2 linked regions of the Homo sapiens genome follow. The protein of the gene in region 1 purifies or fractionates together with the protein of each later gene. This does not show direct contact. Each region holds a gene or a part of one and is shown on either strand. Other genes may lie near its edges.

Region 1 (3,819 bases):
GGACCTGGCAAGGGAAGTGTGGGGAAGTGATAGGATTATGAATATTTTAATATTTTAATGCAGTAGAGTCAGAGATGTCCTGATCAGATAACAGATATTATTTTTACAGATGGTTTTCCATACTGGAACCCAAAGGTAAAGACACTCAAGGACAGACATTTTTGGCAGAGGTAAGATCTTCTTCGGTCACCATATTTGAGTTAGCCCTGGGGAAGTGGACATTTCCATGCAGAATCCTAAAGCTTCTTCCAGGCCATAGTGTCTGTCCCACACCTTCTGGTATCTCTTGATATGCAGCATAGATGAAAATGGCAAGTTCCCTGGCTTTCCTTCTGCTCAACTTTCATGTCTCCCTCCTCTTGGTCCAGCTGCTCACTCCTTGCTCAGGTAGGGAATGATTCCATGATTCCACATTTATGTTTCTGAAGCAGACAATTATCTCAATTACCTAATTAAGCAGACAATTACCTAAATGCCCTCTTAGAACCTTTAACTCATTCCCATACCTGGAAGTCCATCCCAACCTGAAGGATCACCTGTCACAAAGAGACAAATGGTCCTTCTGTTAGGATTGTGTTCCCCTCTAGGTTCTCTGTATCTCGCCTTCCCTGTCTGAGAAGGACCCTTCCTCTCATGACCCCAACTCCAAAACCCTCTGATGGAGCTTCCCCCTTGTGCTGACAGCTCAGTTTTCTGTGCTTGGACCCTCTGGGCCCATCCTGGCCATGGTGGGTGAAGACGCTGATCTGCCCTGTCACCTGTTCCCGACCATGAGTGCAGAGACCATGGAGCTGAAGTGGGTAAGTTCCAGCCTAAGGCAGGTGGTGAACGTGTATGCAGATGGAAAGGAAGTGGAAGACAGGCAGAGTGCACCGTATCGAGGGAGAACTTCGATTCTGCGGGATGGCATCACTGCAGGGAAGGCTGCTCTCCGAATACACAACGTCACAGCCTCTGACAGTGGAAAGTACTTGTGTTATTTCCAAGATGGTGACTTCTATGAAAAAGCCCTGGTGGAGCTGAAGGTTGCAGGTGAGCCTCCAGGTTTTGTTCTGAGAACATTTCTCTGTAGGATCTAGAGCAGATGCAGAGTCCCTCTTGCAAAAGCACTGCAGACACTCCTGGCTGCTCACTAGCAATTGCCTGCACTGCCTCCCAACTTAGCTTCTCTGAGGCCCTTGAGTAAGACACAGGTTTTCCTTTAGGAAGAATTCCTGCTGTACCCTACATGCTCAAGTAAAGAACTCCTTTCCTCTGGCCACCAGAGATATAAGCGAAGTGAAGGACGAGGGATAGGAAGCATAAGAAACCATCTCTTCAGTGACTGGTACACAGTCATTTTGGTTTAGTTGTGTAACAGATGGCTTCTGTTGTGTCTCCAAGTGCACACTACCATGGGTCCTGGGAGGTGGAATAGTGACTGTATCTGCTGCCAGTGTTCTCCAACTAGCCATCCCCAGGAATACTCCTGTAGTAGAACTAGCTGTATTTCTTACGTGTTGCAGTGAGGAAGAACACACATCATGGGGAGCTGTGGCGGGGTCTCAGTAAGAAGGTGTTAGAGCAGACTTGGTATACAATTTGGGCTTGTGTTAGGGGATTGGGGCCGGGGGAGTTCATAGACTTAGCCCTCTGCTCTGGATGAGATTCCATCAGGAAGGTGTGGGCAGGTTAATTCTGAGTGAGAGCCTTAATCAATCTTATGTAGGAAGAAGGAGACCAGGGTGAGACAAAAGCTGTAATTGATGAAGGGGCAGCAATCCCTCATTGCTGAGGGGGGATGTTTGGTCACTGCTGTGGTTTGGACAATGTTCATGTTTTTCTCTATGCTCACATATGATGTGGGGTGGTATTGTTTTTCCCATGATCCATCATAGTCACAAAGTGCCATTGTCTGTGTTCTGTGAAATTGCTTATGTTCAACAGGATGACACAGAGACCCGGTGTCAGTTTCCATATGTTGGGACAGCTTTTCTCTTTCTCAGTGCAATCCCTTGCCCTGTGGCTGCTGGTTAGGTTTGGTTTAAGGGGATCTCTAGCAGACAATCATAGGAGGAAGAGAAAAGGAAGAAGTCTGGGTGCTTATTCACTGGCTTCCTTACTGCAAGTTACCCTCAGGCTGGCTGCATTGCCTTGCTGAAGGTAACAGCTCCTCTAAAGGAAGTCCTCAATGCATGAATCTCTTCTTTTTTGTGTTCAAAACAGCTTCCTCTCCTCCTCCCTCTGGTAATTGGGGTGGGTGGGAATAGCCCCACTGTTTCTGACCCTGGGATACTGCACTAGCAAATTTAGTTTTCCCCTCATCATGACCACACTTTTGTAAACAGCTCCTGAATGAAATATCTCTTGAATTATCAAATCTGAGCCTGACATTGATTCCCATTGAGACCCTCCCTAATACAGGAGCTATCCAGAATTTAGGCCAAATTATCCTTCCACAGCACTGGGTTCTAATCTTCACGTCGAAGTGAAGGGTTATGAGGATGGAGGGATCCATCTGGAGTGCAGGTCCACCGGCTGGTACCCCCAACCCCAAATACAGTGGAGCAACGCCAAGGGAGAGAACATCCCAGCTGTGGAAGCACCTGTGGTTGCAGATGGAGTGGGCCTATATGAAGTAGCAGCATCTGTGATCATGAGAGGCGGCTCCGGGGAGGGTGTATCCTGCATCATCAGAAATTCCCTCCTCGGCCTGGAAAAGACAGCCAGCATTTCCATCGCAGGTCAGTACCTGCTTGGCCTCAGGTTTTCTGAGCTGAGCTGTGGCAGTTGAATGAAGGGGGATGTGTTAATATCTGTGGTCGACCTGGGTCTCTGCACTGAATATAAGGCCCAAAGCACAGACCTGGAGGCTCCTCTTTGTGCCAGGGGAGCTTCTTTCCTCCATAAAGGTGTTCGTAACACAAACATTTTCTGAACATTTCCTATCTGCCAGAAAGTATGACAGGCAATGGGAATTGGAGGAAAAACATTAAGATAAGCTCCTTATATAATGTGAAATGACAAAATGGTTATATATATATATTTACAAACTCATATCATAGAGAAAGAGCTGATCTCCTTGAATCAGAAGGAGATTCTAAAAACCTAGTAAAAAGTTTTGGCCAGGCATGGTGGCTCACGCCTGTAATCCCAGCACTTTGGGAGGCCGAGGCAGGCAGATCATTGAGGCCAGGAGTTTGAGACCTGCCTGGCCATGGTGAAACTCCATCTCTTCTAAAAATTCAAAAAATTAGCCAGGTGTGGTGGAGTGCACCTCTAATCCCAGCTACTCAGGAGGCTGAGGCACGAGAATCACTTGAACCCAGGAGGCAGACGTTGCAGTGAGTGAGAGCAGACCACTGCACTCCAGCCAGGATTACAGAGCGAGACTCTGTCTCAAAAAATAAATAAAATAAAATAAAATAGAAACCAAGTAAAAAAAATGTTAACAAAGCCCATGAATTATCAATTCACAGAAAAGGAAATAACTCACAAAAGGGTGCTCATTCTCACTCACTGGGTAAACATATGAAATAATTTTTCACTTATGATATTTGCAAAAATCAAAACTGCTTTGGCTTATAATACATGATTCTCATAGGAATGTAGGAAGGCAGTGACTCTCAGTCATTTGCTCATGTAACTTCCTGTATTTTTGATGTGCATTAGGTCAACCTCTGTTGGGGGCTCTATAGCAATATCTATCCAAACTACACACTTATCGATCCAAACTTCCACTTCTAGGAATTTATCTGATAGATAAGCTTGCATTTGTATGAGATGATCCATGTGAAAGGTTTCTGTTTTTCGTTGTGTGTGTGTCTTTTTTTTTTTTAG
Region 2 (3,819 bases), on another chromosome or scaffold:
TGTGTATTTATTTATTTATTTAGAGACAGGGTCTTGCTCTAATGCCCAGGCTGGAGTGCAGTGGTGTGATCATAGCTCACTGCAACCTTGCACTCCTGGGCTCAAGCAATCCTCCCCCCAAGTAGTCTCCCAAGTAGCTAGGACTACAGGCTCAAACAATCAGCCATAATGCCTGGCTTTTTTTTTTTTTTTTTTTTACTTTTTTGTAGAGACAGAGTCTTGCTATGTTGCCCAGGCTAGGTCAAACTCTGACCTTCAAGCAATCCTCCCACCTCGGCCTCCCAAAGCATTGGGATTACAGGCATGAGCCACCACACCCAATCTGTTCTTCAGCTGTAATATCAGTTAAGTAGTAACCAAAGTTGGGAGATCTAAAAATAAATGTAGGGGAACATTCAATAGCTCAGTTTCACTACAGTGAAAGTTTCCTATAAAAAAAGAGTGAAAATAACACTGCTAATGCAAGTTAGCATTGTATCTTCCCCACACATGACCTGAAACTCTGATCATTAGTATCATCTTGGGATAGAAAATAAGAGTAACTATTCCTACAGGTTATTTTCAGGAAGTTACATTCAAATAAACACAGGAAAAGAAAGTAGGTCTCAGTTAAGAAGGCTCCTCTTTTCTTCATAAAATGTATAACTTTGAAAAGAAAAAGAAACTGACAGAGACCAGGAAACAGGCAAGCTTAAGAGGAAGGAGAGGAAAAAGTAATGAACTCTGGAAGAAAAAGCACGTAGAATACTGAAAGGAATGAATTGCTCTGTCCGTGAGCAATACATACTACAGCATAAAAAGAGATAGAAGGAAGGCCTTAGGCCGGGCGCGGTGGCTCACGCCTGTAATCCCAGCACTTTGGGAGGCCGAGGCAGGCGGATCACGAGATCAGGAGATCGAGACCATCCTGGCTAACACGGTGAAACCCCGTCTCTACTAAAAATACAAAAAATTAGCCGGGCGAGGTGGCGGGCGCCTGTAGTCCCAGCTACTCGGGAGGCTGAGGCAGGAGAATGGCGTGAACCCCAGGGGGCGGAGCCTGCAGTGAGCCGAGATTGCGCCACTGCACTCCAGCCTGGGCGACAGCGAGACTCCGTCTCAAAAAAAAAAAAAAGAAGGAAGGCCTTAAATTATGAGACACTCATTTGTAAGATGGCAGTTTGCCTGAGCTTTAGAAACAACCTTTATCCAGTTAAGACAAATTTAGAAGAGGGTCTTTCTCCCTGACTTTTTATCTCTACTGATCACATCTTTCTCTAAGACTCTTCTTCTCTTAAATGTTTTAAACAAAGAGAAAGAAAAAAACTTAAATAGAAAACTCCTAACAAAAAGAGCCCCACATTACAACTGAATTAAAAAGAAATTCACACTGTTCTCAAGAGAGGCAGTCTGGCTGTCTAATGAGAGGCCTCACAGAGTGGTGCTACCTGGTTGAACCATGTAGATCTGCCCTCTGTCTTGCAAATTAAGAAATCTGATTTGTAAAAATTCTGAAAATGAGCCTGTCTTTCATGGCTAGACTGACATTGATTAAGTTTATTCAGAATGATGTAGAAAACTAAAATGTCATGAAGGCATCTGAACACTTGAGTCCTCTGGACAGTGTATTCTTTATAAGTAGATAACATGGGGCATCAAATTATAAAAGAAAGTAGCTTGGGAATATGGGTAGAATCAGAATAAGGAAAGTTAATTATGTAATTTGAAGATTCTAAGGCATCAGGCTAAGATATCTAGAAAGAAAATTGTCCCAATAAGAGCTTTATTGGCTAGTAGGCCTCAAAATCAAGTCCTTGGGCCAAAGTGCACTCTCCTGTGTTTGGATGGACACAGTCAGCTTGCCTGTGTGACTCTCCTTTTTTTTTTTTTTTGGCTTTGTACTGCTGACCGGTCCCTCCTGCCGATTAACACGTTCTTCCTTCACTCATAAGAAATCAGTGGCATGGGTTTTAAAATAAGTATCTGAATCTCTGTTCCATTTTGTGTTTTTAAGACTCAGCTCTAAGAGGAAATTAGAATTTGTCTAATTTCCAAATTTTTCCCAATCCCTCTCCCTCCCTATTGATCCAACAACAACAACAAAAAATTCAGTAAGATGGGTACTATAGCTTACAACAAAAATATGACCACTGTTGCCATAAGTCTGATATAAGACAACACAAATTAGAACAGGAATAAAATTTTCAAAAGCTTCTTTTGTAAAGAACTGGACAACCAGATATTAAAAAGATTAGAAGGGAATACAAAACACTTTGGAAAGACAACAAAATGTGAAAAATCTGGTCAATAAACATTCTAATTCTGAAGTTTCCATATTATAAATTACGTTTACATGGTCAAAGGGGAAGGTGTCCTGACGAGCAAAATTGGGCTAGGTTTGTCTACTTCTCCATGTTTCCTCAAAGACCTACTTTAAAGTTACTTCTTCCACATTTCTTCTTCCATCCCCCAATCTTGAGTTTATTATTAAATAGCATCTTTTAACTTTAAATCAACAAGTAATTTTTAAAATAAATTACAGAGTAATTATTTAGTTATAAATGCAGAGTAAAAGATACATACCTGTCCTATTAAAAGGCCAGAGACAAAAGCCTTTCCTTGGAGATTTATGTTTGAAAGATACTGGCCAACAGTCTCTTCTACAATGTAGGTTCTTCCCATTTTTAGGAACTAAAATCTCCTATATCACAAGAAGAAAAGATACAGCATTTAGGTAAAATATCATTTGCAATGTCTTTATCATGGGAGTAGTTTAGCAAGAGAAGTGATACTATCCTGAGGCTATCTCATGCCTTGCAGCAAATACTTATTACATAGTGTATTCCTTCTTGCAAAGTTCAGATGCAGTTCCAGAGTTCTTCTCAATACAATGCAGCAGGAAACAACCACAAATCAACCAGAGTTGACATGAGAGATCAAACCTTTTACTCATACCTGGGATAAGGGAGAGGATACTAAACTAGTAAGCAACACACCAGATTTCTTTTTTTTTTTTTTTTTTTTGAGACGGAGTTTTGCTCTTGTCACCCAGGCTGGAGTGCAGTGGCGCAACCTCGGCACACTGTAACCTCTGCCTCCCAGGTTCAAGTGATTCTCCTGCCTCGGCCTCCTGAGTAGCTGGGGTTACAGGGGCTCACGACCATGCCCGGCTAATTTTTGTGTTTTTAGTAGAGACGGGGTTTCACCATGTTGGCCAGGCTGGTCTCGAACTCCTGACCTCAGGTGATCCGCCCGCCTCGGCCTCCAAAGTGCTGGGATTACAGGCGTGAGCCACCATGCCCAGCCAACACACCAGATTTCTTATTTTAGATCTACTCCCTAGTTGTATTATCTTTGATACTCTATTGCTAAGTCTTGGTGTTCTCATTGCTAAAATCGTAAACATGAATTTCTGAATAGTTCATTAGGAGGTAGAGTCAAATTCATTTACTTGATAAGCATATATGAAAGAACTATACTATTTGCTTAGAAACTATGCTAAGTGGGATAACACAAAGATGAGCAACACAATCTCTGTCCTTGAGCAATACATACTACAGTAAGAGTTATTTAAGTAGATAAATAGCAATACAATAACAACATATAGCTTCTACTTTGTACAACGCATTATTGTAAGTACTTTCCATGTAACATTAATAATTCATAAAACCCCAGGAAGTGGGTACCATTATTATAATCCTCATTTTATAGATGAAGAAACTGAAATGAGAAAAGTTGATTAAATAACTTGCCAAAGTGACAAAGCTGGGTAAGTGGCAAAGGAGGGACTTAAATTCAGACACTCTGGCTCTAGAATCCATGTTTTTCAACACCACGCTC

What was found.
Region 2: the proteins of BTN3A2 (region 1) and ODR4 purify together in Homo sapiens (affinity purification with mass spectrometry; one large-scale study listed by BioGRID and IntAct). This does not show direct contact.

Annotation. Positions count from the first base shown.
Region 1 is NC_000006.12:26,367,881-26,371,699, forward strand, and holds part of BTN3A2 (butyrophilin subfamily 3 member A2 isoform a precursor), read left to right. Parts: intron 1-94; exon of another isoform or gene 95-109; 5' UTR 110-170; intron 171-297; 5' UTR 298-302; coding exon 303-387; intron 388-684; coding exon 685-1,032; intron 1,033-2,441; coding exon 2,442-2,723; intron 2,724-3,819. UniProt on the Homo sapiens protein: Plays a role in T-cell responses in the adaptive immune response. Inhibits the release of IFNG from activated T-cells.
Region 2 is NC_000001.11:186,378,628-186,382,446, reverse strand, and holds part of ODR4 (protein odr-4 homolog), read right to left. Parts: intron 2,681-3,819; 5' UTR 2,662-2,680; coding exon 2,563-2,661; intron 1-2,562. UniProt on the Homo sapiens protein: May play a role in the trafficking of a subset of G-protein coupled receptors.